Regions from separate parts of the Homo sapiens genome. Here regions 1, 2, 3, 5, 6 and 7 are each reported to be linked to region 4. The links are microRNA targets in miRTarBase. Many come from high-throughput screens and were not tested one by one. Region 4 holds a microRNA gene; each other region holds the end of a gene's coding sequence.

Region 1 (4,079 bases), not on the chromosome of region 4:
CACGCTCAGCACCGTGTAGCGGCGGGGCCTGGGCCCCCAGGAGGAGGGCGCCGCCGGGTGAGGGCCGGGGGCCAGGGGATGGCCGGGGGCGGCAGCGGGCGGGCCACTGGGCGGGAAAGAGAATGGAGTTGAGAAGCTCCAGGGGTAGGAAGCCCGGGAGGATGCAGGCAGCCACCCGTTGAGGATGAGAAAGCCCGCCCCAAGAGTTCTCTTGACCACCAACCGTCCCCTCACGCCCGACCCCTCTGTTGGACTGGCCGCATCCACTTCTGGAGAGAAGGGATGCTGGCGTGAGGGTCGCTGATTGCAGAGCAAGGGCAGGAACGGTGCAAGCGAGGGCAGGGAGACTGGGTCACTGGCTTCAGAGGGAGTGACACCTCAGGGCAGGGGACAGAGGACCGGCACGGGTGTGGGGTTGAGTGCTGGATTCGGAGGTCCTGTTGCCCAAGTTTGGGGTGCATACCTGTCTGGCTGATGCTGCCAAGTGACCCCTGCTCTTCGCAGAAGGCTGAGATCCTGGAGGGGGATTGTGGGGCTGCAGGGGAGCTGGGCAGGAGCCCCCTCCTGGGCCCACACCACCGGGACCTCAGCCCCTGGCTGGAGAGGCTTCACTAGGTGAGCAAAAGAGAGGCCAAGGGGAGGGGGCGTGAGCCGAGAGGCAGGGGTAGAGAAGGAGCCTGGGTGTTTCCCGAGGGAGAAACAGGGTGCAGGAAGAACTTGGGTTTCTGTTTCTTCTCTGCCCAGAGAGGCTTTCGGGGTGGAAGGACTGCCCAAAAAAGGGATTAGAAGAATCCACAGAGCTAAGGACCTCAGGACCTTTGTGGCCACAGAGATCCCTGCTGGTCCCCTCCTGTGGGGCTGGAGGTCAACCCTCCCGCCATCCCCGTTTTACCTGGAGCCACCCAAAGCGGCTGCAGAAACAGCAAGCCCAGGAACTGAGCCTCCCACATCTCTCCTATGGTCTGGGCAGCGCTGAGCCCTCCAAAAGGAGGTCAGAAAAGGAAAGGGGGCAGTGGTGGGGGGTGGGGGGTAAAGGAGAAGTTCTGCAGAGAGGGAGGTGGAGGAAGGGGTTCTAGAAGAAGGGAGACCAGGAGAGGGCCTTGGAGAGAGGGTGGGGAGGGATGACCAGAGGCCGGAATCCAGAGGAAAGCTGGAAAGCTGGGCAGATCAGGCAGCCTGAGGAGGTGGGGGCGGGGGTGTCCCAGGGAACAGAGCAGGGCCGTGGCGGAGAGCAGACAGAGCAAAGTGGCCGTCGTGGCTGGGATGCCGTTCTGCTGGTCTCTGGGCCTTCACCCCTGTGCCCGGCCTTCCCTCCACCTTCCCCACTTCCCCTCCTCCCGGCCCGCCCCCCGCACCCCAGGGCTTACGGTTTCGCTTCGCAGTGGAAAGTCTGAGGGGGTTGATTCCCAGCAGCAGCACCCTCCACCTCTCCACCTCTGTGGTGGCGCTCCCCTTGTTTACTTCCTCAGTCCTGGGTCTCCCCACCTCCCCCTCCTCGCCCCTGCCCCACCCTCCAGACTGCTCCCTCTCCCAGGGACCTTCTGCCTCCACGAACCATTTCTGCCTGGAACTGCCCCCTTGCCCATCTCTAAGCTGCCTCCTCAGTCCCAATATTCACACCTCCTTCTTGGCAAGCTCTTTCCTTGTTGCTCAATCTCCTTCCTCGTTCCCTTAACCTCCCAGAACTTCGTGACCCCTTTAGACCTGCCTTTCCACCCATCAGTACAATGTCCCTGGGAACATGGTGGACAGGAAGCCTTACTGCACCCCAAAAAATGGTAGGTCTGAGGCTAGGCATGCCAGCTTTGTGGGGCATGGAGAATAACTACATTGTATTGAGGCTTCATTACGTGCTAAGCACTGTATTGGACACTTTACTTATAGTAATTCATGAAATCTAATGCTTTTCCCCATTGTACAGATGAGGAAACTGAGCTTCAAAGAAATTGTACAATTTGCCAAGGTTAGGGAGCGTGAAGATAAAAGCTGTGAGTGTACCTGTGTGCGTGACAGTGTGTAGTCCTGACCTTGGATGAGTTACGGGCGTCTCCTGGGAGAAATGATGCTGTTGATGAGTCAACACCCCTCCCCACTCCAACTCAGGTCCCCATGCCCTCAGAAGCATCCTCCAGTCCAGAGGTTCCGAACTAAGAGGAGAAGGCAAGGGCCATGCGGAGATGGAGAAATGCAGAAATCTTAGAAATCTCCTAACAGAGATCAAACTCAGGGGAAACAGAGGCAGTGGGACTAGGGAAGGCCCAAGACTGACAAGAGTCATACAACTCCCGCTCCCCAGCCCAGCCCAGGGAGAGTTGGAGGGCAGGTGACGAAACATACAGCCGACCTGGGGATGACACGAGACCCAGGATTTCCCTGCTTGACTGGAAGGAGCTCGCTTCCATGCCAGGCAGAGGGCATCTCTGATGCCAGGCAGCTCACTCCAGATCCTAGCAGGCTGAGACCCAGGACTACCAGCCCTCTCCCAGCTCAGGGGAAGGACTTCCTGTTTCTGGGCTGTTTCTCTGTGCCTGGTTCAGCACAATAGAGCTGGTAGCTTTCCACTGGGCTCAGCAGTGTCTAGGTCTTGTGTGGGTTAGCAGGGAAGTGTGTATTGCTGGGGAGGAGCATCCCTGAGAATCCAAAACAGGACATAAGTCAGCTCTCAGAAGAGCTGGGCTCCAGGCCACCCCTGGAGGGCTGATCTTGTCTTCTTGAGTCGTGGGTGGTAGGAGTGTGCTGCTGCTTTTGTATCAAAGGGAAGGGTCCTGGCAGAATGGGAGGTCAGCCACCCTCCTCCCTCTCTACCCTTTTGTCGCACTGACTGGAGCCCCCGGGAAAGCAGGAGACAGGTTAAAAACAGAAGCGCGACCATTTCTTTATTAAATTATACAAAAAGGGAGGGGAGGGGGGCAGCTGTGGGGCTCGGCCCCAACCCCGGCCCCACCCCGGCCTGGCGCTGTCTGAGAAGAGGGGATCTGAGGGAGATCCAGGGATCAGGCAGGATAGGGATGGGGCAGGACATGAGGCTGGGGGATGCAGAGGTTAGGTGGGAGAGGCTACCGGAGGAAGAATGAGGCTGGTAGGGGAGGGAGAAAGAGAGCAAAGAGAGAGAGGAGCAATTGGGGGCCAGCTGGAGAGCTCAGATGGAGCAGGTCAGGAGGTGGAACAATGGCAGAGTGAGGGTGGAGGGCGCAGTGTCTGGAGAGGCGGAAATGAGAAGGCTGGGGAGAAAGAAGAGGGTGGCAGCTCTGGTGCAGGGCCCAGAGCAGGGAGCCAGGTGAAGAGTGGCTGGACTTGGCTGCCCCCACCCCCACCTCCAGGCCCAGAGAGGCCTCCCAACCCCAGCCTGTTGGCAGGGGCTCACGCCGATGCCCCATTTTCTGTCTTCTGCCGTTTGGGATCCGCTTCATCCTGTGGAGAGGGAGAGAATGGGGGAGCTGTAAAATGGGAGGGGAGACCTCCCCCTGTCCCGGTCCTGTTCCAGCCCCCACCCCTGCCACACAGGGATCTGGGTCCAAATCCAAAGGGCGCCCAGCCCGGCTGCATCCCTGACAGCCCCTCAGGCCCAGCAACCCAGCCCAAACCTCCTCTTCGGCAGCTCTCTTCAGCGCGGGCCCTTCATCATCCTCTTCTTCTTCTTCCTCATCTGAGGAGCCAGAAATGGGTCATTGGGGAAGGGCAGGAAGCTCTGGCAGAGCCCCCGTGGTCGCCCTCAGCCCTGCTTCAGGTCTTCAAACCCACCCTGACTCTGCTCTCCTTTGAGCCCAGACTTTGCCAGCCCAGCCTCCCCTGCCCCTCCCCACCTTCTTCTTCCCCTTCATCTTCCTCCTCTCCATCCTCGGCAGTTTCTTCTTCTTCCTCCTCAGCCCCGTTCTCCTCCTCCTGTGGGGACCAGGAGAGGGAGTAGCCTCAGGCTGGCTGCATGCCTTGCCCACCATCACCACCAATGGGACTGGAGCCTGGGTGATAAAAGGGCTTGGGATGGGCCACAGGGTGGGGCAGCAAGGGTGACAGGGCTCAGGGGAACGGCAGGACCCAGCACCCTCGGAAGGAAAGCAGAGGAAGGATGAGATGATTGG
Region 2 (4,087 bases), not on the chromosome of region 4:
TATCAGTGATCAGTAGCACAGTTCCAAGATATCTTTTAAAGTAGCCCCTACCTTAATTTCTGGCACAGGAAATTGGCCTGTTCTCCCTCCTTCTGATAAGTTGGCCTCTCCCTCCTGTTGGTATAGGTTGGAATTGAGATGGAACATTTCCCAGAATTTGAGAACGATGTGGAGTTCACGGAGCGGTTAGTTGCTGAGCAGTCTGTCCACTGCCTCCCAGCAACGGTGGGTGCCTGTGTCCCTCAGGACATTCTCAACAGTTTCTAGAGCCCCAGAAGCAAGTTCTGAGCTGGTTTTTAGCCTGATCTTTTCTCCTCCAACAAAATGTCTTCTCATTTGATAAGATTCAAACTGATGTGTCTCATGGATCCTATTTAAAATTTGCTTCTCCCCCCCATCATAATCCCATCCATACTGGGAAGAAAAGTTGTAAACAAACGTTCTAGGTGAGAGGAAATTGATCCTGTCCCACAAGTCATTTTAAGATGAATGAACTCAGTTGCTGACTTAGCATCCCAGTCATGGGAGCTGAATGAACTGATGGCCCTGATGAAATGGTACCACTTCTTGTGGATCAGGGTCCTGACCATTTTAGGGTGGTCCAGTACCAGACTCAATTGCTCTGAAAGTAACAGACTCTTCTTTTTGCAGTGCTTTGAGTACCCGAATTTCATCCGAGTGGTCATCACAGTCCCCGAGGTGATGATGCTGGAGGCGTGCAGCCGGATCCAGGAGTTCTGTGAGCAGCACTACCATTGTGCTGAAGGCAGCCAGGAGGAGTGTGATAAATAGGCCTGCATCCATTCTCCTGAGGATGTGTCCCATCTAGGGAAGGCTGGACTAGGCCTTGCGGCTCCTCAGGGACTCAGGTGGCCCTACTGGGAGAGGGGCCTCAAATGCACCATGTCAAGGGTTCAAGATTGTTCCTGCTTTTCCCCAAGTACAACCACACCCACACTCAGATCCTCCTCATTCACATCGCAGATTCTCCCTTGCTCTGCGCTGCTAGAGTGACTCACTAATTCATTAATCTGCCTCCCTCTCGTAAGATTTCCTTCTTTTTTTCTTGAAAGTACCAGGTGAACAAAGTTTACCAGAAAGCAGTTGAGACAAGAAAATAAGAGCTCAGGATGAGGGAAAAGAAAAAGATTGAGAGAATTTGTGCCCCCAACCATTTCCTCAGACTCTAAGAAAGAACACGCTCTCTCCAGGCAGGTCTGAAGCTCAACTCTCTTATTGCCTCACTTCAGGTATACCTCACTTTACACAATAGAATTATAACTGGAAAGAAGTTGGGGACACATGTATTTGGTGATTACATTTTAAACACATTAGGAAAAGTTGCTATTTGAACTTTTTATTGATTTTTGGGGGGAGTAAAGAATTATTTTGTGATGCAAATAAATATCCTTTAATTGATCGACTTGCCAAATTTAGATTTGTGTGCATCAGGCTTTCTTTTTTTTCTTTTTTTAGAGAAGTTCAATATAAGCTTTTCTTTTCTTTGTTTCTTTCTTTCTTTATTTTGAGATGGAGTCTTGCTCTGTCGCCCATGCTGGAGTGCAGTGGCGCGATCTCGGCTCACTGCAACCTCCACCTCCTGGGTTCAAGCGATTCTCTTGCCTCAACCTCCCAAGCAGTTGGGACTACAGGCGTGAGCCACCATGCCCGGCTAATTTTTGTATTTTTAGTAGAGACAGGGTTTCACCATGTTAGCCAGGCTGGTCTCAAACTCCTGACCTCAGGCAATCTGCCCGCCTGGGTCTCCTAAAGTACTGGGATTACAGGCGTGAGCCACCTCGCCCAGCGGCATCAGGCTTTCTTAAAGTGAGAGCACGCCTGTACTAGAGCAAGCAGGAATCAGAGACCTTCCAGAAATACTACTGTGTAAGGGCCAGAAATATCTTCACTTGTCATTGTTATATAATCATTATTACTTTTGCTGTAATGTTAATATTGATTTATTAATATATATTATCTTTTCATACATTTTCTAAGAAACATTTATATTGATAAGATCTTTTATTTTGCCAAGGGCATAAATTATTGTTTTTCTTTTTTTTTTTTTAATAAATTTCACCAAGTATGGCTCTTCTGTGATGTGTTTTTTTCTCCGTTTGGGAATTTCTAATCCCAGGCACTCCTCAGTCTCATTGTTTCATTACCTATGAGGTTTCATTTACTTCTTTGTAAATGTACTGACTTTTGGAGTTACTTAAGAACCACAGTTCCTAAAACATTTTATTTGGGAGCTCAACTTCTGGCTTCCTACTTACCAAGAGGCAGTAAGTTATAACCTCTGGCCTTTGTCTTTACATTTTCAACTTTCTGGATCCCTAACCTCTGGTCCCAAGTTACTACGCTTGCCTATATCCACTAACCACTCACTAGGTCACAAAGTTGATGGCTCTGGCTTGACCCAGTGAATGAGAAGTGTCCTAGATGTTTTTTTTTTTTTTTTTTTTTCGCAAATCTTCATAGGCACAGTTGCCTGTTTAATTTTTTCTTCAGCCCTTCCCTTAGAGGAGGGAGCCTTAAGTTACCTTTCAAGGTTGGGGGTTAGGAATCTATCATAACTAGTCTAGAGATTTCTCACCAAGGGAAATTTTCCTTATCTAAAAGAGGAACTTCAGGTCTCAACCCTGCCAGTCACACCCAATTAATGTCCTTCACAAAAATAAACAGCATATGTTCCCTTTCAATTTGAGTTCAGTGAGCTCACAGCAAAATTTACCTTTTAATTTTCTTCAGCAAATCCAAGACGAATATACAAAGGATGAGATTAGATAAAGATTTCAGTTTCCCGTATGCCACCGCTGCCGCCAATTTTCCAAAAAAGCCTGGCTCCTCTTTTCCTGTTCCTCCATCCAAGCCCCCAAAGATCTCTAACCAGAAATAAACAGGAAGACTCAGTGATTTACAAAAGACATTTTAGTTTTACACGTACAGAAAATTCTACCCAGCATTACAGAATTCTTAGACTTCTTAAATTCCTGATTTTCCTTGGTATTTACATTTTGATAAGGGAGCCAATGGTTCTTCAAACATTTGAAAAGAACACATACACACTGGACAATTTCAAACGATACAAACAAACGCAACTGTCCTTCTTTCTCATTCCTGTCCTTCAGCCACCCAGTTTCTTCTCCCCTGAGGGAATCAGTTATCATTTGCTGGTCATACTTCCAGATTATACTGTGCCTATGTAAGTGTGTGTGTGTGTGTGTGTGTGTGCACTTTTCATTTTTTCAAATAAAGTATTACTCAACTTTGTAATTCTGCGCGCTCTGGAGGTCAAAGGAGGGATGGCATTGCTGGGGTGTCCCCCACATCCTGAGTGTCTCTAGATAAAAAGGAGCTACCGGGCGGCGGCTGCTTTCCACACAAGCTTAAAATTGCCAAGAGTCAACTGCCAGTTGCTTTGGGTGGTGGCGTCAGAGTGTCTTCAGATAACACGAAGAATGCGTGTAAAGATCGGAGACGGCCGGGCGCGGTGGCTCACGCCTGTAATCCCGGCACTTTGGGAGGCCGAGGCGGGCGGATCACGAGGTCAGAAGTTTGAGACCATCTTGACCAACTTGGTGAAACCTCGGCTCTACTAAAAATACAAAAATTAGCCAAGCGTGGTGACGCGCGCCTGTAATCCTAGCTACTTAGAAGGCTGAGGCAGGAGAATCGCTTGAACACCGGAGGCAGAGCTTGCAGTGAGCCGAGATGGCGCCACTGCACTCCAGCCTGGGTGACAGAGCGAGACTCCATCTCAAAAAAAAAAAAAAAAGGACCGGAAACAAGGGCTCTCAGCTGCGAATTCACCTTTTCTTTGTGTCCGAGCCCCGCCTACCGGGTAACTGGAGAGTATCAGGACTGGGTGCTACCAAGCGCCTCACAGCAGCCCCCAGCCGACACCAACATCCCAACCCTGGGCGACCCGCGGCTGCGCAGGCGCGGATGCATGTTTAGGGGGCTGCGCTAGTCAGTGCGCATGCGCCGTCGCTAGGCAACAGGACACAGCTCCGGGCGCCGGCGTAGAATCTGAGCTGCAGGTGAGGGTTAGTTCCTTTATTCGGCCTCTGCGTTCTCTTAGGAT
Region 3 (4,087 bases), not on the chromosome of region 4:
ATGAGCCACCGCACTACTACAGTAAATGTTAATAACTATATCCGACATAAACAAAAGCTCTTGGGGTCCTCCACAATTTTTCATTTGTGAAGGGGTCCTGAGACCCCCGCAACTCCTGTGCCCTCAGTTATCCCTGTTTCTCTCTCTTCTTAGCAACCATGTTTCCTGAAAGCTGCTTCCCCTCCCACTGGCCCCTCAGCCCTGCCTTGTGGCTTTCCATACTGTTCCTGAAATTGCTCTCACTGAAGCCACAAGGGACCCCCCCTGGCATTTCATCCAGTGGACACTCTTCTGTCCTCGTTTCTCTTGACATCTTGGCCATCTTGGCAACATGACCATGTTGTGCACCTCCTGGAGACACCTTCCACCCTGGCTCTCCTCACCCTGCCCTCTCCTCGTTCTCCGCCTACCTCTCCAGCGCTTGTTCCCGACACCTCTTCTTGCTTTGCTCAGACCACCGCGGCTGGGGTCCTCAGGGCCTGGCCGGGCCCTGTTCTCCTCTCCTCCCCTACCAGGGCTTTAAGCCCAGTCTCCACATGTATGGTTCCCAAGTCTCTAACTCCAGCCCAGCTTTCTCTCCTGACTCCCACACCAACATATCCAGCTGCCCTGAACATCCCCGTAGAAGTCATTCCTCCCCTCACAGGCACCCCTAACTTAAACGCAAGGCTATCTACCCCCGACTCTTTCCAGATCTGCCACTGTCCCAGGAGCCCCAGCCCTACTGTCTCTACCCTCCTTTCACTCTGCTCATCAAACCAGCCACCAAATGCTGTCAACCTCACCCCTAAACAATTCTGCAATCCCTCCACTGTCCATTCCCACTGGCACACCTCAGCTTGGGCACCCTACAGCTCCCTCTGGCCTCTCTCCTCCAATCTGACTTCAGCCAGTGTTCTCTCTTAAGCACATCTCTGCCCTTCTCAGAATCCACCAGAGGCCCCCACTGACCCAGGAGGAATGCCACCCCGCAGCATGGCACAGCGCAATTCACCAGGCCGGCAGTCCTGCCACCTGTCTGGCTCGTGTCTCCTGTCCGGGCCACTCTGTTCCAGCTGGTCTGAGCTTGCCTCCCCTCAGGCACGTGTTGTTCCCTTACTCTCTGTTCCTCAGAGGCCCCTTCTCAGGTTCCCTCTCCAAGAAAGCCAAGAAGGCCTTCCCTGACTGCCCTGCTCAAGTCAGAAGCCCTTTCTGGGTGCTCAAGGCCCTCTTCTCCCATTCCACGCTGAATGGTCACCATCAGTTTCTAGACTCCAAGTTCCTTGAGGAGGAGGAGTTCTTTACCGCTGTATCCCCGTGCCTGGAATGGTGCATGGCACACAGTGGGAGCTTAAGGAAATACTTGCTGATCGAATGGCTTGATGGGTGAAAGCCCCCTACGTGCAGCTGGCAAGCAGCCCTCCCCACCATCAGCTCCCAGGATGGAGCAGGGCTGTGCTCTGGCTGTCTGGCAAGAGGCCCAGGAAACACAGGAGGCAGCTGCCCAGGGCTCCCTGCCACCTGCTGCCTCCTCCTTTTGTGTTGCCCTCACCAGGCACCCAGAAGAAGCTGGCTGGACTCCACACTCTTCCCATCAATGGCCAAGACACAAGGCCGCCAAGACATGAGCACACGGCCCAGGCATGGCACCCTCCCCAGCCACAACGGCTGCACAACCTGATCGGAGTTGACCCTGCTGGAGACACCCAGACCAATCCAGGACACCAGCCGCAAGAACAGCAGCAACACATACCACCCAGCCTGCCCCATACATCATCCCACGGCATCGTCCCCTCACAGTGAACTTGTACCCAGGGGGCTGAAGGCTTTTTCCGAGGTGACTGGGCAATGAGGAGGAGGCTGGGTTGGACTCTCAAGGCACTTTTTTTTTTTTTAATTTCCTTTGTATTTTTTATAGAGATGGGGTCTCACTGTGTTGTCCAGGCTGGTCTCGAATTCCTGGGCTCAAGTGATTCTCCCACCTTGGCCTCCCAAAGTACTGGGATTACAGGCATGAGCCACCACACCCAGCCCTTGGCCTCAAGCTCTTCTGCTGCTAGAGCCTGTCATTTTGGGTCTGCCCCATTCTGCAAGTTCAGGGATTGAGTAGCACTAAGAGGCCACTCCTGATGAGGAGCTCAGGCCCAGGCTGAGATCCTGGAGCTGTGATCTGTCCCCAAGGGCTAGACAAGAACATCTGGGGACAGGCAGGGGGTAAACTTGGGGCCCGCATTCCAGTGTGGGTAAACCAGGGCAGGTGATGGCAATGGGGAAGGCACAGGCAACACCACACTCCCGGAGGCAACAGTGAGCACTCAGACTCTGAAAGTAAAAGGGACACCAGGTCCTCCAGGCTACAGGTCCCTGCCATTAGCCTTGCCTTAGAAGTTGTCATCACCCTACCCTAACCCACGTGCTCCTTTAGCAGGACACCAGGGTTCTGGCCTAGCTGTTAGGAAGAGGCAGCCGCTGGCCCTGCAGCTGGAGGAAGAGCTGGTCTGAGCTCCAAGCCTGCCAGCCTCCTTGGGGCAGCTGGGCAGGATGAGACAGAGTCCAGGTTGGTGGCAAGGACACTGCTCACAGGGCTGCCAAGTAGAGCATGAGCTGAATTCTGCACAACTCAGGGGGTACTATTTGCATGCGTAAGGCATGAACTGTACCCATGAGAGTGATGTCACCTGCTAATTCTGCCTGCCCAGCTGCCCCTCCTGGGAAGAGAGGGAAGGAGAGGAAGAGGGAGCCCTTTCCCCTCTTAGGAGCCTTCCAGGGCATCACCACCTCACTTGCCCCAAACCCCCATCTGAGAAAGAACCACATTCCGGCACAGCACAGATAAAGAGATAGTTTTATGGGTAACAGTATGGGACAGACTGGGAAGGTTGCCAGGGCCTGTAGTGATGAGCTTCCCAGGAATAGACCAACACACAGGCAGGAGTGGCCCAGACAGACAAGTAGATAGACAGACAGACAGAGGGACAAGAAAACAACCAAGTGGGTAAGAGGCCCAGGCCAGGCTCAGCAGCTGTGTCCAGGCATCAGCTCCAGCTCTGCTCTGGGGAACTGGTGGAGGAGAAGGGCTGGCCGGGGCCTCAGTCCTTACAGGGCTCCTTCTCCTCATGCCCTACTATCCCTCATCCAGCCTGCTGGGATCCTTGGCAGGTGGAATTCCCAGGGCTATGGATGGCTGGGCTGAGTGAGCAGAGGATCGAGGCTCTTGGAGACTCCCTGGGGAGGTGGAGGCCTGGGTGGTGTGGGGTTAGCAGCAGCACTGGGGGGAATCTGGTCAAGTTCCAGGATGGGGCCACTGCTCAGCAGGGCCCCTGTGTCCAGGGCAGGCCCTCCACCTGCCCACCACACCAACATGGTGCAATAAATAAAGTTTCAAGTAGTAAGTCAGTGTCAAGCAGGAGAGCTGCAGGCTGGCAGACAGGCAGGGACTGAGAAAGAGAAGCCTCCAGCCACCCACCATATCTGCTCAGTGGGCTCAAGCGGTCGCAAGTCTGTCTTGTGCACTGGAGTGGGTGTCTGGCCCTGATGTCCACATGAGCACTCCCCGCAGGGGCTCAGCCCCTCACACCAGCGCCAGAGCCTGCTCGGTGGGGCAGAAGCAGGGCAACATGGTGCCCACAGCGTCCACGATGGCTGCCAGGTGCTCGTCCTGCGCCTGAGGCCCACAGAGCTGCATGAAGTCTGCCAGACGCAGCAAGTATTCAAGGTTGTGGCCGGAGAAGCCCCGGCAGGCCAGGATCTGCGTGGCAATGGCCTCTTCAGGCGCAGGGCCCAGGTAACCAGGGTTCTGTGGGGTGGCCACATAGGCCAATGCCTTCAGTGGTTGGTCAGGAGCATCTTGGGGATAGAAGGTGACCTCCTTGGTATCGTAGCCACCAAGCACTGCCTCTCGCACATTCAGGTACTTCAGGGCCTTGCTTACCTGCTCCCCTTGCACTTGGTATGCCACGCCCCAAGTGCAGCCCTGGGAAGAAATAGGGACACCCGGGGTCAGTCATGACAGCTCCTTGCTGCTCCCTCTCCTATCCTAACATGCCACCCCCACCCAGGACTGTGCTCTATAAGGGAGGCTGTGGTCGGCTGATGAGCCATCTGGTGG
Region 4 (4,087 bases):
GGCTGCTGCCTCCTCTGCCCAGGGCCCACACTCACCTCACGGCGCCCGCTCAGGCCCTGGACTCCAAGTGTGGGAGACCCTGTCTGCCACAGAGCTGGCTCTGGGCTGTGTCTCCTGTGGTCAGAATACCTGAGGGCAGGGCTATGCCTCCCCCGTCAGTTCTGGGGCAGCCTGAGAACTGTGCTTCCTCCATCAGTCCAGGACTCCTTGAGGCTCAGCAGGGCTATGCCTCCTCCATCAGCCTGGGGCTACCTGAGGGCAGGGCTATGCCTCCCTCATCAGTTTGGGGCTCCCTGAGGGTAAGGCTGTGCCTCTTCGATCAGTGTAGGGCTCCCTGAGGACAGGGCTGTGCCTCCCCTGTCAGCCTGTGGCTCCCTAAGAGCAGGGCTGTGCCTCCCCCATCACTCTGGGACTCGCTAGGGCAGGGCTGGGCCTCCCCCGTCAGCCTGTGGCTCCCTAACAGCAGGGCTGTGCTTCCCCCATCAGTCTGGGGCTCCCTAGGGCAGGGCTGTGCCTCCCCCATCATCCTGGGGCTCCCCAAGGGCTGCCCTGGTCCCCACATGAGGACCCTACATGAGGTCCTCCTAAGCCCCGACTTCTCAGGCCTCCCATGTGGCAGGGGGAGCCCCTGGATAGCTGGGGCCCTTGGTGGGGGTGGCCAAGGGCCTGACTATGGTGACCGCTGAACCCCACTCTGCCCAAGGCTGCTGACTTGGAGAAAATGGAACAAAAGAGGCCAGAAGGAAGGGAAGCATTATTGGAAAAACAGCCCAGCCCAGCCGCGGAGGCCTCCTGGGCCCAAGGAGGAAGCAAGCCAGCCTGGCCGCCAAGTTGGACGTGGCTCTGTGAGTCACTGGCGGGGGAGTCTGGTGGGGGGCTCGGCCAGGCTGCGTGGCTGGGGTCAGAGGCGGTCCGAGCAAGGGCCAGGGCACGGACACAGAGCCTGGGTCAGCGCCCAGGAGGCAGCCAGGTATTGGCAGACCCTCCTCTAGGGCTGTGGCCACCCTCGCCCCAGGAGCACTCACCCACTCCCACGCCTGCTCCTGGGGGCCCTTCCTCGCTCTCATCCTGCACTGGAACCCCCAAGCCCAGGCCCTTGACCTCCCCCTCTGCCCAGGCCCCAGGGTACACGGATAGGGGCTAGAGCCCAGGCACGCGTTATGGGGCTGCTCACAGCATCTCCTGCTTCGGCCGCTCGGGGACATGGCCGCCTCCCTCCTCGTCCTGGGCCTGAAGCTGCCTGTCTCTCTCATGCTGGCATTGCTCGTGGACGGCCTCCTCCTCGTCCTCCACGCTCCACTGAGCAGTGGGCCTAGTGGGGGACACAGAGGGACAGTCACGCCACAGCCGACACAGGTGCTGTTTTGCACCCATTCCTCCCATCTACACAGGCCTTGCTGGGGCCACACGGTGCAGGCAGCCCTGTCCACGAGGTCAGTCCCAGGCCGGCCCTCAGGCCTCACCTTGTCCATCTTTAAATAGAGGCTGCCCACGTGGTCATGAGGTGCCCTCTGGCCCAGGCGAGGGTCCTGGGGCCCTGTGAGGATCTGGGCACCCCTGTGCCCTGTGGGGATGAAGGTGGGACTCCAAGGCCCATTCAAGCCTGAAGAAACTCAAGGACAGGACAAAAGGCCCTCTGTCCCCCTCTCCCAGCCTGCCTCCCTCCCTAAGTAGAACCAGGACCTAGACCCAGGTGACCCTGGAGGGCCCAGGAAGAAGATACTGGAGTCCAGGGAGACTGGCCGCAGCCCACCGCCAGGCGGCACCTCCACCCCACCTGCGGGTGCTCCCTCCTGCACCCCAAAGGCAGGGCGTGTTGGAGAAAGGGGAGGTCGAAGGCTGAGGAAAGGAGGGCCTGAGCACGTCCAGGCAGGACACCTCCTGTCCCACCACCAGCCCCGCTCACAGAAGCTCCGCAGACTCATGGGTCCTGCCTGGGCCTAACCCCATAGCTGGGGGCACCTTACAGGGTCGGCTCACCCAACCCCACCCCATCCTTATTTCAGAGCCCTCTGCGGAGTCTCTCTGAGCTGTTTCTTTTGTTTGTTTGTTTGAGACGGAGTTTCACTCTTGTTGCCCAGGCTGGAGTGCAATGGTGTGATCTGGGCTCACCACAACCTCCGCCTCCTGGGTTCAAGCGATTCTCCTGCCTCAGCCTCCTGAGTAGCTGGGATTACAGGCATGCACCACCATACCCGGCTAATTTTGTATTTTTTAGTAGAGACAGGGTTTCTCCATGTTGGTCAGGCTGGTCCTGAACTCCCGACCTCAGGTGATCCGCCCGCCTCAGCCTCCCAAGGTGGTGGGATTACAGGGATGAGCCACCGCACCCAGCCGATTGAGCCATTTCAAAAATGGGGAAACTGAGGTAAGGGAGTGCTTCTGCCCTCAGAGCCTGAAACCATGGCTTCTTGGGGTCCCACGCGCCCCCCTCAGGGACAGAGGTAGGCACAGGCTGGCCTGGACCTGGGCATCAGAGCCCCGGCCCAGCAGCTCTCAGATGGTCCAGGTCCTGCAGACACCGCAGCCTCAGCTGTCATGGCCCTGCCTCCCATCGCCCTCCTAGAGCCTGAGAGGGGGTCCAGGGTCTCTACACTCCTACAGGGCTTATTATCCCAGACCCAGGGAGGGAGCCCAGGCCAGAACAGGGAGCAGGGCTGGGGTCTCCCCACTGGGGTCTCAGTTCTTCCCGGCCAGTGGCCGCTGCCTGACCCTGCAGCCTGATCCCCACTGGGCCCCAGTCCCCTGGCCAGACAGCCCTGCCAGCGCGTGATCTAATCTCTCCTAGGTCTCCCCTAAGCCTCTCAGACAAAAGCCAGGCCCTTCCACAGGCCCGAGTTCAAGGCCCACTCCCCCCACCGAAGCCACAGGGGACTCCAGCCACGCAAACCCAGCCGCCTGTGCACCCCGCCCCCCGCGCCCCCGAATCCGCCTGCCTGTCCTGCTCCTCAGAAGTGCCTTCAACTCCCGGCCCCCGAGGAAGCCACTTAATTCCCCACACCTGGCTCCCATCATCCGGGCAGATGAGGCCCAGCTTCCCGCTTCTGCCGGCCTCCGCATGGCTGGGGGCTGCTGGGCCTTGTTCCACCTGAGGAGGCAGAGCCTGGGGCGCAGGGGCCCTCGTGCTCACTCACGCCCCAGCCCCTCCACACAGAGGGCGGCGCAGGCTGGGGCAGAGTGTTGAGGAGGTGGAGGGGTTCCATGGAGGGGAAGCCTGGCCATATTGCTCCCCGTGTTCCCATGTCCCAGCCCCTCCATGTGAGCAAGGGCTTAGCTGGGGTGTGTGTCCCTGGGCCTGGGGCATGAGAGGGAGCCCATGCTCCTCCTTGGACCTGGGCTTCCGATGGGTCCAGGGCCCTCACTCCAGCTCCACAGACCCCCTCCACCAAGCCATAGGGGAGGCGGGGCTTGGAAGTACACATTGGCGCAGAGACCCCAGAAGCTCGTGTGCACACGTTTCCTCAGGTCCACCCCTATGGGCAAGCAGTCCGGGCCCCAACAGCCCCACAAAGGCCCTCACTCTGCTCACAGCTCATGCCCAACACATGGAGTGCGGCCGGGCGCAGGACTCCCTAGGCCTGGGGCACACGCAGGTGCACACCCAACTCACACACGTTCTCCACGAGCCCACGCTCCAGCCACACAGGCATACATGCCCGCACCCCATGCACATACAAGTATGCACGTGCTCACACACGGGAACCTTTGACATCCACGTGCGTGTGCAGACAGGCTTGGGAACAAGGGGACCACGTCCCCCTCCAGGGATCCCTTCAGGGTGCCGCAGCCTCACTTTAGTGAGGCAAACGTTGACTGTTTGCCTTGCCATTGCCCCGACAACGGCGGTGCCGGCCCTGGCACGAGGCCCAGGTGTGTACTCTGGGAACATCGTCCCTGCAGAGCTGGGCCCCTGGAGGATCACTCCGACTGAGCTCTCCCTGGCTAGGGGCCTGGGGGACAGAGTAGGGGATGCAGAGTAAGCATCTCCTGGTGTCTCCCCTAAAACCCAGTGCTGGGGAGAAGCCCGGCCAGCCCCTGGCCTCTGACCCAGCAGCCTGAGGACGTGGAGGCCTCTGGGCCCCTTCTA
Region 5 (4,087 bases), not on the chromosome of region 4:
TTCTAGATGCCTCTGAGCTCCAAACCCAGGGCAGCCATGGCTTCTCATTTACACCAACAGGTTTCAGTTCCAACAGAAAGGTCGGGGTAGGTTCGTGCAGAGATGGGGCTGGCAGGGGGGCTATGGGAGGATTATTTTAACAGATCAAGAAAATGAAGCCAAATCAAGTGAATTAAATTCCTCACAATTATTTTCTTTCCCTGAGGTTTGATTGGCACAGCAGCAAAAGTTGAGGCCACCCCACTTGTGTCCACTGTTTTTAGAAAAAAATGAATGGCTTCCTGCCATTGTGGGGCTGGACTCTTGGGCTTTCTTGGTGGGAGCGGAGAAGGGGCCTCCCACCCTTGTCCGAGTTGCCTCCCACTGGAGGTCAGGAGTCTACACTGCAGCCTCGGGCACTGTGGGGAGTGCATGCCTGGGGCCTCTGGGTGGGGACCATGGACAGGCCCTGGTCACTGTCCTAACCTTTGTCAGGACAAAGGTAGCAAGAGGATTTCCTGGCGGGTGGGAAGGAATGGCTGGGGCGGCCAGTTTTGACACGCCCCAGTGCCCTGGAGAACAACCAGGGTCATCTGCACTTGATGACTGCTCCCCGACCCCCAGCCCGGACACCTCATTCCCCTCCCACTACAGGGATCAAGTGACCTGGGAAGAACCGAGTTTAACACCAGGATGTGTTTCCTTAGATTTCCTTTCCTAGGCGATTTCCAGGGAGAGCCCTGATTGGACAATCACATCACAGATCACACTGCAGTTTCCATGTTAGCACTGTGGATGGGTTTTTAATCAATAAAAACTGGGGGTTTCTTCTCACCGACTCTCCACTTGCCCAAACTGCCAAAAGCTGGTGATTCTGGGACAGGCCTTCACTTTGGAGCCACGGGATGGGGTGGGGGAGCCCCATGGGCCTGGGAAGGAGGGTGCTGTGGAGGGGGCTGCAGGGCTGACCAGCAGGCAGCCTCATCTGGTCGGGGGCGGGGGCGGCAGGAGCAGAAGCGGGGTCTCCGTCCTTGGGACTGTCCTGGTTGGCCACGGGCCCTGAGGATGCACGGTGCCTGGGGCTCCTGTGCCGGTGGGCGGGGGGCATGCTGGCCTCTGAGCGATCAGGCGAGGCCAGCGAGGGTGTGCTTGCAAATTCAAGCAATAAGAGGGGGGTTCCTGGGGGCTTCCAGCCCAGGCTAGAAGCCCCCATGGCTTCTGGCAGCTGGACATCAGCCCCAGGTATTGGGGTGATTTTGGTCATGACAGTGTGCCTGTCCCACTGTTACACGCATGAATGGGGGTTATGGGGTGGGGGTGGGGACTCAGGGCTGGACCGACGTCCTAGTGGACCTGATGTGAAATTCCTGTCAAACAAACACCACTTTTCAATGGTTTGCTAGGAGTATTTCTGTATTGAAAGTTTCTAATTATGCTTTTTAAAAAAATACTAAAAATAAAGGTTCAAGCTGCCAAATTTTCTTCCAGGGTCTGTTTGCTCTCCCTCCAGAGATGTGCTGAGTGGCCGTGGCTTCTTCCCACCCACCGTGTCCTGCTCTTCCCTGTTCTTGGCCTAAGTCTTGCACAGGAGCCTGTCGAGGCCCTTGGGACACTTCCAGAAGCCAGGTCCATTTTCTCCATGAACAGGTGGGCCAGGGTTGAGTCTCCCCCTAGTTGGACTGGGAGCACATGTGGTAAGATGCCAGGGGAAGCTCCGTGTTTATCCTCCACATGCCTGGAAGGATGCAGTGGAAGCCTTTGCCTGGCGTGGTTTCTTTCTGGCTTGAAGTTTCTGCCAAGCTTTAGGGCCCTGCTGGCCTGGGAAGCAGCGTTGGCAGGCCTGCCTTGCGGATGGCACGCTGCAGCACTGGCAGGGGGCAGTGCCAGGCGGGAGGGGCAGGGGAGGATGCCCTTCCTGGCCAAATCCCTTGGTTAAGTAAGTACCAGCATCTGAGGTGGCCCGGGTGCAGGGGAACCACTATTGCTACCTCTCCAGCAGCAGCCAGTGGTGAGTCTGACATGTCAGCTGCATTCAGACCAAACCCGCCCCCCGCAAATACCCAGAGACTGAGGCAGGAAGCTCTGTAGAAATTCATTTTATTCTTATTCAGACTATTTTCAAAAGAAGCAGTGGTGTGCTGTTTTTCTAAAAATATGCCTTTATAGATTTTTATATATGTATATTATAAAATCCATACATGTATTTACATGATTGCTACATACAAAATTACAGCACTGTGGTATGTACACATCTACAGGTACATTCTTGCCGCGCATCCCTGCTGTGCTTTCCCCACGTGAGGGAGGGAGGGAGACTGAATCGGTTGTGAGCAGCTGAGGGCTGGCCGGGCCGCGGAGCCTCTGAGTTGGGGCCTGGGTGGAGGAGGAGGGGCGGCTGCAGAGGCAGGAGCAGCAGCCACTGCAGGCTTCTGCAGGCAGGCAGGCAGCATCTGGAGGCTTCCGGCAGCCTCCCCCTCCCCTCCACCCCGTGGTGCCTGTGCTGCCCTCAAGGTGGGGTGGCTGACCACAGACCCCTCTGGTGCCATTCAGTGGCCTGGACTTGTTTGGCTAGGCCAAGAAATTATGTATGTATGTGAGGGGTGGAGGAGGGAGCTGTGGGAGGAGGAGACCCCGTCCAACCCCAGCCCTGAGCAGGGGAAAGGGCTGGATGGCTAAAGCCTGCAGATGACTGGTGATAACACTCTGCCTGGCCAGGCCCTGCTAAGGGGCAGAGACTGAAGGCTGGGAGGGAGAGCAGTGGCGACAGGGGGACAGGGCCTTCTTCCTCCCTGGGGCTCGGGTGGCCTCAGCTGAGCTTGGGTAAGCCCCGGCTCTTAGACCCTGCGGCCAGAGGCTTGGCCTCCTGCCAGCTGAGGTGCATGCATGCGGGGGAGGGGCTGCCATCTCTCCTTTGACCCTGGGCCAGGGGCTGGGGAAGGAATGGAGGCTCAGGCCTGGCCCGCTGCCCCCACAGGTCTAGGCCCCTGGGGCTCAGGCCTCCTGAGGCATGCAGAGAAGGGCCTCCATTCCTTCTGTTCCCCATTTGCTAAAATCAAGGAGGCAGCAGTGCCTGGGGGTGGGCTGCGATCTGTTGGGTGTGAGCTGCAAAGCCCAACACCAAGGGGCCCCTCTGGGAGGTGGCCTAACCCTGCTCAAGCACGTGGTCCTGGAGAAGCCCAGGCGTGGGCTTGGCCAGGCGGTGGGCCAAGGGAAGCCTTCAGTGGCCAAGGCAGGCCCCCACCTCTAGGTCTCCATCCCCACCGACGAAAGGGAGCAGGCCCTCCCGGACCCATGGGGCCCTAGCATGAGGGGCAGGGCAGCTGCTGAGGTGCAAGCTGCAGGGGAGGCCTTGCCTGCACCGCCTTTCCAGCTGCCTCCAGTCCACCCATCTTTGGTGGCCTGACTCCTCCCAACTTAAATTTTCCTGAAGAATGAGAAGAGTCGTTTGCCTTCAGCGATGCTGGGCTCATCCCCCCGCCCAGCGCTGTGGCCCCTGCAGAGGGCAGCAGCCGGCTGGCTCCGTTCTTTCAGGTGCGTGTCCATCAGCTGCCGGTCAATGACCCTGTGCATGTCATCCTGCAGAGGGGAGGGGACAGTGGCCAGGACTGAGTAGCTGCTCTCACCTAACCCTGGGGCTGGACAGGGAGGTGGGAACATCAGACAGATGAGAGATGAGAATGTGATGAGTGAGAGGCTGCAGCCGGGACTGCCCTGACCAAGAAAGCGGTGAGCGTGGGCAAGACACCAGGCGCACGCAGGAGCCGTATGGCACCTCCAGCCTCCTCAGGCTTGGGCTGGGTTCTCCTCAACAGTGTTACTCCTGCTGGGCCGCCACAGTCCTCAGCTGATGGCTCGGGTGGTCTCTCCCTGCAGTCTCCACACTAGCACTCCACCTGCTCTGACCAGGCCTCACGGCTCTGCCTCCTGTGTCCTGTGGGCCTGGCTGGTGCCTCCGGTTTGGCTTGCCACCCCCAGCCCCGGCAGGCCCTAGGGCCACCTCAGCTTAACAGCTCCCCAGCCCAATGGCCTGGCCTCAGGGGCTCCTCCTGCCTTTTCCTTTCCAATTATTCCAGCCTGAGCTACTGATGCCCAGGCACCAACGGCAGCC
Region 6 (4,000 bases), not on the chromosome of region 4:
CCCTCGCCGCCCTCCCTCCGCTGTGATCCAGAGATCTTGGCTTTGGGGAAGCGAGACCCAAAGCGGGGAATGACCTGCGGGGCCCGACCTGCTGTTTCCCAGTTGCTTTGTCCCCTCCTCAGGTTGCCTGGCCACGGCGGCCGCCCTCACCTACGGCCTCTACTCCTTCCACCGGGGCAACAGCCAGCGCTCTCAGCTCATGATGCGCACCCGGATCGCCGCCCAGGGTTTCACGGTCGCAGCCATCTTGCTGGGTCTGGCTGTCACTGCTATGAAGTCTCGACCCTAAGCCCAGGGTCTGGCCTTGAAAGCTCCGCAGAAATGATTCCAAAACCCAGGGAGCAACCACTGGCCCTACCGTGGGACTTACTCCCTCCTCTCCTTTGAGAGGCCCATGTGTCGCTGGGGAGGAAGTGACCCTTTGTGTAACTGTAACCGAAAGTTTTTTCAAAAATCCTAGATGCTGTTGTTTGAATGTTACATACTTCTATTTGTGCCACATCTCCCCTCCACTCCCCTGCTTAATAAACTCTAAAAATCCACTTGTATTTAATTCAGTATCATCCCCATGGTTTTTGGTCTTTGATTTTGGAGGAAACGGACTTTGGAGTGGTGCTTAGAAATCGTGTAGTCTAGTGATTCCCGAACTTTCCTAGTAACAGCCACCCAGGGCACTTTGAAAGCAGAGATTTGGCCAGGCGCAGTGGCTCACACCTGTAATCCCAGCACTCTGGGAGGCCGAAGCGAGCGGATCACCTGAGGTCAAGAGTTCAAGACCAGCCTGACCAACATGGAGAAACCCCATCTCTACTAAAAATACAAAATTAGCTGGGCGTGGTGTTGCGTGCCTGTAATCCCAGCTACTCGCGAGGCTGAGGCAGGAGAATCACTTGAACCCGGGAGGCGGAGGTTGTGGTGAGCTGAGATCGCGCCATTGCACTTCAGCCTGGGCAACAAGAGCAAAACTCCATCTCAAAAAAAAAAAAAAAAAAAAAGAATCTCAAGGTCACTCCTTGAGATTCTAGTTCAGTGGGCCTAGAGTAATGCCATTTGAAAAATACTGGTCTAGCCAGCAGTTTTTCAGACTTTCAGTAGGACAACCTTCCTTCAGATGAGGCCTCCCATAGTCGGGTCAGAGGCAGAGGGTTCTGCCCTCCACTCCGCATAACCTCCTCACCCTGCTCCCACCTCCCTAGAGTCTATGGGGCTCCACTGATCTAGACCATCTAGTTCTTTTTTTGAGACGAGTCTCACTGTGTCAGCCAGGCTGGAGTGCAGTGGCAGAATCTCGGCTCACTGCAACCTCCGCCTCCCGGGCTCAAGCAATTTTCCTGCCTCAGCCTCCCGAGTAGCTGGGATTACAGGTGTGTGCCACCACGCCCGGCTAATTTTTGTATTTCGTATTTTTAGTAGAATACTAAAACAACATGGTTTCACCATGTTGGCCAGGCTGGTCTTGAACTCCTGACCTCAGGTAATCCCCCAACCTCGGCCTCCCAAAGTGCTGGGATTACAGACGTGAGCCACCACGCCCAGCCTAGACCATCTGGTTCTTGACACAGTATAGAAGAGGAAACAGGCTCAGAGAAGCAGTCTGGTACAGTGGGAAGAACACAGTCCCGAAGCTCTCCAGAGATTTGTGTACATAGTGTTTGAGGGTTCTGGAAGAGGAGGCTGAGGACCTGAGCACACTCTAGAAGAGAGGTGACCTGTTAGTTCCTCCTTCATGTAGTTTCAAACAAGTATTCCTGGTCTGTGGTCAGCGCTCCTCAAATGTTGGATTTGAGGACCTGCGCTCTTCCCGAGTGATTGTACTGTTTTCAACACCAGCTTCAAGCTGGCAGAAGGAAAAAGGGAGTGAAGACACACCCCTTCTTGAACCCCCCAACAGTCTAGATCTCAGTGGAGGGCTGTACTAGGGCCAGCTAAGTTGCTTGCCTCCACCATGTTCTCTCAGCTTTGAGGCAGAGATGATAGATGTAGAGCAGTGCACTGTGGTGACCCTTGGCATCCAGATACAAGACAAGGACATGGAGTGATGACCACTGTTTGTAAGTGTTGGTGTCATGGTGTCCCCCTCCAAAAATGTTGAAGTCCTTCTAGTGCCTTAGAATTTGACCTTAGGCTGGGTGCTATGGTTCATCCCTGTAATCCCAGCACTTTGGGAGGCCAAAGTGGATAAATTGCTTGAGCCCAGGAGTTTGCCCAGCCTGGGTGACATGGCAAAGCCCCGTCTCTACTAAAAATACAAAGATTAGCCAAATGTGGTGGCACGTGCCTGTAGTCCCAGCTACCTGAGAGGCTGAGGTGGAAGGATTGCCTGACCCAAGGAAGTTGAGGCTGCAGTGAGCTGAGATTGCACCACTGCACTCCAGCCTCAGTGATAAAGCGAGACCCTGTTTGAGAAAAAAAACAGAAAACGAAGATTTGGCCACAAAGACAGACATACCTAGAAGGCAATGTGCAAACAGCCACCTGATGGGGGCAGGATTGGGGTGATGCGTCTGCCAGCTAAGGGATGCCTGAGGCTACCAGAAGCCAGAAGCAGGTGGAACAGACCCTTCCCCAGCTCCTTCAGAGGGAGCATGGCTCTGCCACAGCTTGATTTCAGATTTCTGGCCTCAAGAACTATGAGACAATAAATTTCTGTTCTAAGCCAGCTAGTTCATGTACCTTCTTACAGAAGCCCTAGGAAGCTAATATTTACTGGCAATTACTCAAATCTTTTTAAACATCATGCAGGTCATGAACGTCCTGTTTGCAAACTCTGCTGAAGGGGAAGAAGGTGTGATCACTGGTTGTTTATCCAAAATCCAAGATGAGCCCAGTTGAAGGAGGAAGCGAAATACACAGGGCAGTGGACCCTCCACATCCAGAAGGTCCCAGCCAACCCTAAGGAGGGGAGTCTCATGGGTCTTCAGGGCTCTTACCCAGGCTTAGGAGGAAGCTACCACCAGGAACCTCTGGTCTCGCTTTTCCCTCCCACTACAAGCCACTTCCCCTCTGGGAACCTTGGTGTCCTTGGTTATATGGTGAGAATAACAGAATTTACCTCACAGACTTGTTAAAGGATCGAGGTTACAAAAGCATTCTGCGAGAGGCTGTCTTTCCTCCTGGAGGTGGAGGCAACAGACATGGAGAGCTTGGGGCTCCCACTTGGCTGGGAAATGGGGGAACATTCTCCCTTCTCTCAAGGTCATGAAGCTGGGAAAGTTCTAAGCACAAACCGAGCCCTGACACCAGTTGTGGCTTCCAGAGAAGTGAGAATGATAATAAATAAGTGTAAAAAGAGTCAACAACACACCCTTTAAGCCAAGAAAAAAAATACATCAGGAGGGACAGTCACAATTGAGTAGACTGAGAGGAGGCGTGAGGGGCTGGACCAGAGGGCCAGGAGGGAGCGAGGCGTGATGGGGTGAGGGCCCCCCTCCCAGCGCCTGGAGATGGGGAGGAGTGGAATAGGCTGTGGGTAGCAGCTGCTGCGAGTCTCCACCCCGACCAAAGCAGCTGCTCCTCCTGTGCCCAGGCCCAGCCCATGCTCTGTGGCCATGCACCTAGCAGGCACCTAGCGGGACAGTGGCGTCTGCTTCAGGGACATGAGCACCGAGCGCAGGCGGGACACATCTTTGCACTGCTTGCTGCTCTTGGGGTTGAAGTCACATAGCTGGGCCACCTTCTCCCACTCTGTGCCTGGGGTCTCCTCCTTGGATTCCTTCACGAAAGCCTCCTCGGATGCCCTGCGGGTGGAGATAGGACGGGCTTTTATAGCAGTCTGCTTTCCCCCAGCCTTGCCCTTGAGCAAGGCTGCTTTGCCCAGCCTACTCTGGGGCACTGTGTCCTCCCCAGCCTTGTGCCCCCCTGACTTCAGAGGAGGGCAGCCTTGGCGCAGGAGGAAGCCTAGCTTGGTCCTGCCTCAGGACCTTGGCACTTGCTATCACCTCTTCCTGGAACACGCTTCTCCCAGACCTGTTCCTGGCTTGCTGCTTCTTGTCATTCAGGT
Region 7 (4,000 bases), not on the chromosome of region 4:
GTTGCATGTCTTATTTTCCAACTATTTTTTTCTTTTCTTTTACCTTTAGCAGAGAAAACAGCATCATTTTAGAGGCATAGAGAACAAGTAGCAGTTGCTTCACCAGGAATGAGGCAGCACACATAGGTAAATGTCATCCCTTTCCATTCTTAAGAGTCCATTATGTTCGTAAGAGCAAAAGAGTAGTGCAGAAGGCCAAAATTCTAAGTACTAAAGTTTCAAAACCACAGAGATATAAAAATATACATAATCCTTGGTCTTTGTATGTCACTGCATGATCTACTTCATCACAAGGATTGTTTCAGCCTCATAGTATCAGCCCTGCTGCCAAAGCTACCTTACCTTGAGCTCATCTGTCCTGCAACACTTGAATTCCTTTCACAAACACACACCTCCCCAGAAAGCTAACTCTGAAACTGGTTTGTAACACGAAGAGCAGAAAGCCTTCACTTGGATTCATTCCTTCCTGTCAATAACCCCTCCTAGTTTGGGTGTTCCCATAGGCTGAGGGATGCCCCTCCTGTACCCTTGGGGGACATAACAGTATCTAATAAATTTCAAAGAGAAATGCCATCATTTGGGGACCACAAAGGTAAAGTTTGCCCTCAAAAAGCTTCAAAGGTCTCCTTAGAGGTCCCACGGTTTGAGGGCCCTTACGTGTGTTAAAAAGGCTTTGTTCCCAACTGGGTGCGGTGGCTCACACCTATAATCCCAGCACTTCGGGAGGCCGAGACAGGCGGATGACCTGAGGTGAGGAATTCAAGACCAGCCTGACCAATAGGGTGAAACCCCATCTCTACTAAAAATACAAAAATTAGCCAGACGTGGTGGTGCGTGCCCGTAGTCCCAGCTACTCGGGAGGCTGAGGCAGGAGAATCACTTGAACCTGGAAGGTGGAGGTTGGAGTGAGCCAAGATCGTGCCACTGCACTCCAGCTTGGGTGACAGAGCAACACTCCGTCTCAAAAAAAAAAAAGGCTTTGTTCCCCTTTAAAGGAAAGAAAATGATCCAAAATTATTACTAAGGGTAAAGGGAATCAGTGGGTAGCACGAACCCTGAGGCAAGGAAAGAGGAGAAAAGAGCCAGTACCAGTGCAGGGATAGGAACTCAGTCATGTGTGGAATGGAGATTTCTGGCTATGTCCTGGAGGATATTGTATACTGGGAGCAACTGACGAAATCCCCTTACAGTTTATATTTCAGTTCTGCCAGCAAAAGTCATTATATACAAGGAAAACAGGGTAGTTCTGTGAATGTATAAGCGTAAGAACTATTTAACAATGCTGCTTATAAAGTATTAAGGGGCATAGTATTTTGGTTTACATATCTATCTGGGTTTGTCTTCTTTTATTAAAGGTAACCTCCTTGAGAGCAAGAACAGACCTTCTATTTTCCTTGCAATTTCCTACAACCACTTAGGAGAGTATGTTCTGCCTACAAGGACCACCCAGTTGTTGTTAAAAGGCTGCTGTGAACATTTCAAAGATACGTCAATGCCTTTTGTGATATTGAATCACTGGCTTTCTCTAAGGTAGACTGACATAGAAACCCTTCCATAATATTATTTACAGAACAGATTTGGGGATAGTAACTACCCAAGTGGGTTTAGAAGTAAACAAAAAGACCTTCATATTATAAGACAGTTTCACTTGTAAGTCAATCACATGGCACAGACATCCCAGGAGGGCTTACTGTCACAGATCACAAGCTCCTTAAGGACAAGAAGTATGCCCTGTCCTCTGTGTTCTCTACCCAGCAGGGCACCAGGCACATGGTGAGGGTGCAATAAGCATCTGATGACCAACAGCTCTGGACAGTGAGGCTTTAGGGCACAGGATAAAACTGCATATAGGCAGCTACATTATGCAGAGGGCTGCTAATTTCTTATTTTAAAAAATGGAAGGGGTAAAACAGCAGGAGACTATCAGAAACTCCTTCCAATGGAGCACGTAACCTGCTTCATCTTCAGTCTTGATGAGTGTCACTATGCAGACTTCATTATTAGTGAGCATTATTATGCTGAGATCAGTAAGGTCCTGGCTGGCTACAGTATCACATCAATAGTGCAAAATGTATACTGGCTTCTGTCTAATCTTATTTTACTTGTGTATGGACCCACAGTATCATAACCAGGTAGATAAGTTCAGAAAGAATAGTTTTTAAAAATGCATGTAATTTGCATATACAATAATCAGCTATTTCTTCTAGCTCAAGAAAACATTTAAAACAAGGCTGGTGCTGCTAGTAGCATTCAGAAGAACACAAATTTCTTGCCCCTTACATTACAATGGGAGCTCTAAGTTTTTACATTTCCTTTTGACTCTGGGGAGTGAGGGGCTCCTTAAAGCAGCTAAGAAAGAACTCAGCCACTAATTCATAGATAATGGAAATGCAAATATTCACTTTGTCTAGTATAGTCTTATACTATCCGCCCATAGTTTTTAGGCACAATTATTAAGTTTTCTCCTAGGGGCAAAAGAAATCATTCAGTGCAATGAAAAAGATTCTTGATAGAATTAAGTTTCAGTAACAACAGCAAAATTATGCATACATAATACATACTTTAAACATGAATAAAACCTAAATTTTTAACATGCTTTAAAAATAGTCACTCTATATCTAATACAAATACGAATGGAGAACACTGCTCTTTATTTTAAAAGCAGATTAATTTTCAGGCTTCTACTTGAGTAACCTTGATTATGCAAGAAAGTTACTCACGCAGACCCAGATGTGAAGAAACCAATGGTTCTTTAGAGAAGCCGACTTTATGTACAATACACACTAAAAACTTTTCCTTCAAAGGGAAGTAACACGTCTTTTGATCAAAATTACTCCTTACAGAAATCCTAGTGCAGTTGTTACTCTCTTCAGCGTTTTGGTGTGGGCCATCGAGACTGTACAAAGCTCTTGAAACCCTTTTTAAGGTAGACTTAGCTACATGAAGGTTAAAATTGTAATTCTTAATTACTGAATGCTATTCAGAATAAGATGATGCTGGGAACTCAGTTCCATATGAATGATTCTATAAAAATTACCACATACTTCAGTTCTTCGTGGCATAAAGCACATAACTGCAAAGATCTAGGCAGTTTTTGGTTGTAGGTTCCCTCTGTCCCACCGCTTGTCTTTTTATTAGACCTTCCCTGAAACTAGATAAATACGAACGTAATAGTAAAGTACTTTGGGACAGTAACAGTTTCTGTTTAAGACTTCCATGAGCAGAACAGTTATTGTCTGTGAAAACGTAGTGCTTTAAAAGGTGCATTTTTACCTGTGTTGCTAAATCAGTTCATGAAGTATAAAACTATACACCACTGGAATCCTGTTTCTAAAACATTAAAATCCTATTAAAAGAGCTTTGAAAAGATAAACCATAGTGATTGCTACAGCATGAGAAAGGTGCACCAGGAAATCCTTCAAAGAAATGCTGAAGGTTACAGAAGTGCTGGGATTAGATCAGACGCTTTATCAGAGAAGTCACAATGGAACACATGCAGGGAAGGGGTGCTGGGGAAACTTCACAAGAATCTTCTTTAAGTCAATAAAGAAGAGCTATCAGTCCTGCACAATGCTCAGTATATAAGGTTTTCCTCCCATGTGTATGAGTTTTAAATGGCATCATAGTTTGCATTTTTTTGGTTCTTTTCAATGCAGACATATTGCTGGAGCCTGTGCTCTGGGCTGGGCTGGCCTGGCCCAACGGGAGCTGGTCAGTACCGGTGGGCCTGGTGAGATGGGTGGTACTGTGAGCTCTGCTGAGACGAGGAAGAGTAGCCAAGTGTGCTCTGGGACTGAGAGGATCCCTGAACGCTGCTTTGGTAATTCAGGCGAGAACTGGAGTGCTAGGAGAAGGAAACAGGAAAAGGGAATTACTGATGGAGGAAGAGGATGACTCAAGATGCTCATCACAGTAGGATAGAGATATAAGCCGTTTTCATTAGGTTCCTGGTTCAGACACACATAGCTGACAGCTAACTTAAGTTGTTAACACATTTTGC

What was found. The annotated mature microRNA hsa-miR-7847-3p reads CGUGGAGGACGAGGAGGAGGC and lies in region 4 at 1,274-1,294, opposite strand. An mRNA with a match to its seed (bases 2 to 7 or 8) in the 3' UTR can be bound and repressed. Matches are read on the target gene's strand: a 7mer-m8 pairs with bases 2 to 8, a 7mer-A1 pairs with bases 2 to 7 and ends in A, and an 8mer does both.
Region 1: miRTarBase lists PTMS as a target of hsa-miR-7847-3p. Seed matches in the 3' UTR shown: 7mer-m8 at 3,183-3,189.
Region 2: the mRNA of TAT is a reported target of hsa-miR-7847-3p. Seed matches in the 3' UTR shown: 7mer-m8 at 1,591-1,597.
Region 3: miRTarBase lists CHAC1 as a target of hsa-miR-7847-3p. Seed matches in the 3' UTR shown: 7mer-m8 at 3,213-3,219 and 7mer-m8 at 3,043-3,049.
Region 5: miRTarBase lists BICDL1 as a target of hsa-miR-7847-3p. Seed matches in the 3' UTR shown: 7mer-m8 at 2,580-2,586 and 7mer-m8 at 2,357-2,363.
Region 6: the mRNA of HIGD2A is a reported target of hsa-miR-7847-3p. Seed matches in the 3' UTR shown: 7mer-m8 at 507-513.
Region 7: miRTarBase lists CDK19 as a target of hsa-miR-7847-3p. Seed matches in the 3' UTR shown: 7mer-m8 at 894-900.

Annotation. Positions count from the first base shown.
Region 1 is chr12:6,769,724-6,773,802 of GRCh38, reverse strand. PTMS (parathymosin) reads right to left here. Exons shown (of 5, transcript NM_002824.6): 3 at 3,804-3,882; 4 at 3,585-3,646; 5 at 2,851-3,411. The coding sequence ends at 3,361. LAG3 (lymphocyte activating 3) reads right to left here and starts at 1,283. Exons shown (of 8, transcript NM_002286.6): 1 at 893-1,283; 2 at 464-611; 3 at 1-106. The coding sequence starts at 950. RefSeq lists a silencer at 1-23.
Region 2 is chr16:71,564,849-71,568,935 of GRCh38, reverse strand. TAT (tyrosine aminotransferase) reads left to right here. Exons shown (of 12, transcript NM_000353.3): 11 at 127-225; 12 at 652-3,276. The coding sequence ends at 792. It overlaps TAT-AS1 (TAT antisense RNA 1), which reads right to left and starts at 3,920. Exons shown (of 3, transcript NR_103852.1): 1 at 3,814-3,920; 2 at 2,735-2,885. It overlaps LOC124903710 (a long non-coding RNA gene), which reads left to right and starts at 3,996. Exons shown (of 2, transcript XR_007065106.1): 1 at 3,996-4,043. RefSeq lists an enhancer at 2,969-3,500.
Region 3 is chr15:40,955,238-40,959,324 of GRCh38, reverse strand. It overlaps CHAC1 (ChaC glutathione specific gamma-glutamylcyclotransferase 1), which reads right to left. Exons shown (of 3, transcript NM_024111.6): 3 at 2,813-3,952. The coding sequence ends at 3,551. Among named protein-coding and RNA genes, the nearest start is that of CHAC1, 3.8 kb to the right of the region's middle. RefSeq lists enhancers at 1,037-1,573, 3,076-3,626.
Region 4 is chr11:1,877,312-1,881,398 of GRCh38, reverse strand. MIR7847 (microRNA 7847) reads right to left here and starts at 1,354; the gene lies at 1,252-1,354. It overlaps LSP1 (lymphocyte specific protein 1), which reads right to left. Exons shown (of 11, transcript NM_002339.3): 2 at 1,175-1,312. RefSeq lists an enhancer at 4,059-4,087.
Region 5 is chr12:120,092,468-120,096,554 of GRCh38, reverse strand. BICDL1 (BICD family like cargo adaptor 1) reads right to left here. Exons shown (of 10, transcript NM_001367886.1): 10 at 2,061-3,555. The coding sequence ends at 3,394. It overlaps RAB35 (RAB35, member RAS oncogene family), which reads left to right. Exons shown (of 6, transcript NM_006861.7): 6 at 1-1,456. Among named protein-coding and RNA genes, the nearest start is that of RAB35, 22 kb to the left of the region's middle. RefSeq lists enhancers at 2,471-3,114, 3,115-3,758.
Region 6 is chr5:176,389,209-176,393,208 of GRCh38, forward strand. It overlaps HIGD2A (HIG1 hypoxia inducible domain family member 2A), which reads left to right. Exons shown (of 2, transcript NM_138820.4): 2 at 123-553. The coding sequence ends at 289. CLTB (clathrin light chain B) reads right to left here. Exons shown (of 6, transcript NM_007097.5): 6 at 3,293-3,737. The coding sequence ends at 3,566. It also overlaps a transcript of ARL10 not described here. Among named protein-coding and RNA genes, the nearest start is that of HIGD2A, 2.5 kb to the left of the region's middle. RefSeq lists enhancers at 1-228, 21-240, 62-745.
Region 7 is chr6:110,610,823-110,614,822 of GRCh38, forward strand. It overlaps CDK19 (cyclin dependent kinase 19), which reads right to left. Exons shown (of 13, transcript NM_015076.5): 13 at 1-3,844. The coding sequence ends at 3,713. Among named protein-coding and RNA genes, the nearest start is that of SLC22A16, 140 kb to the left of the region's middle.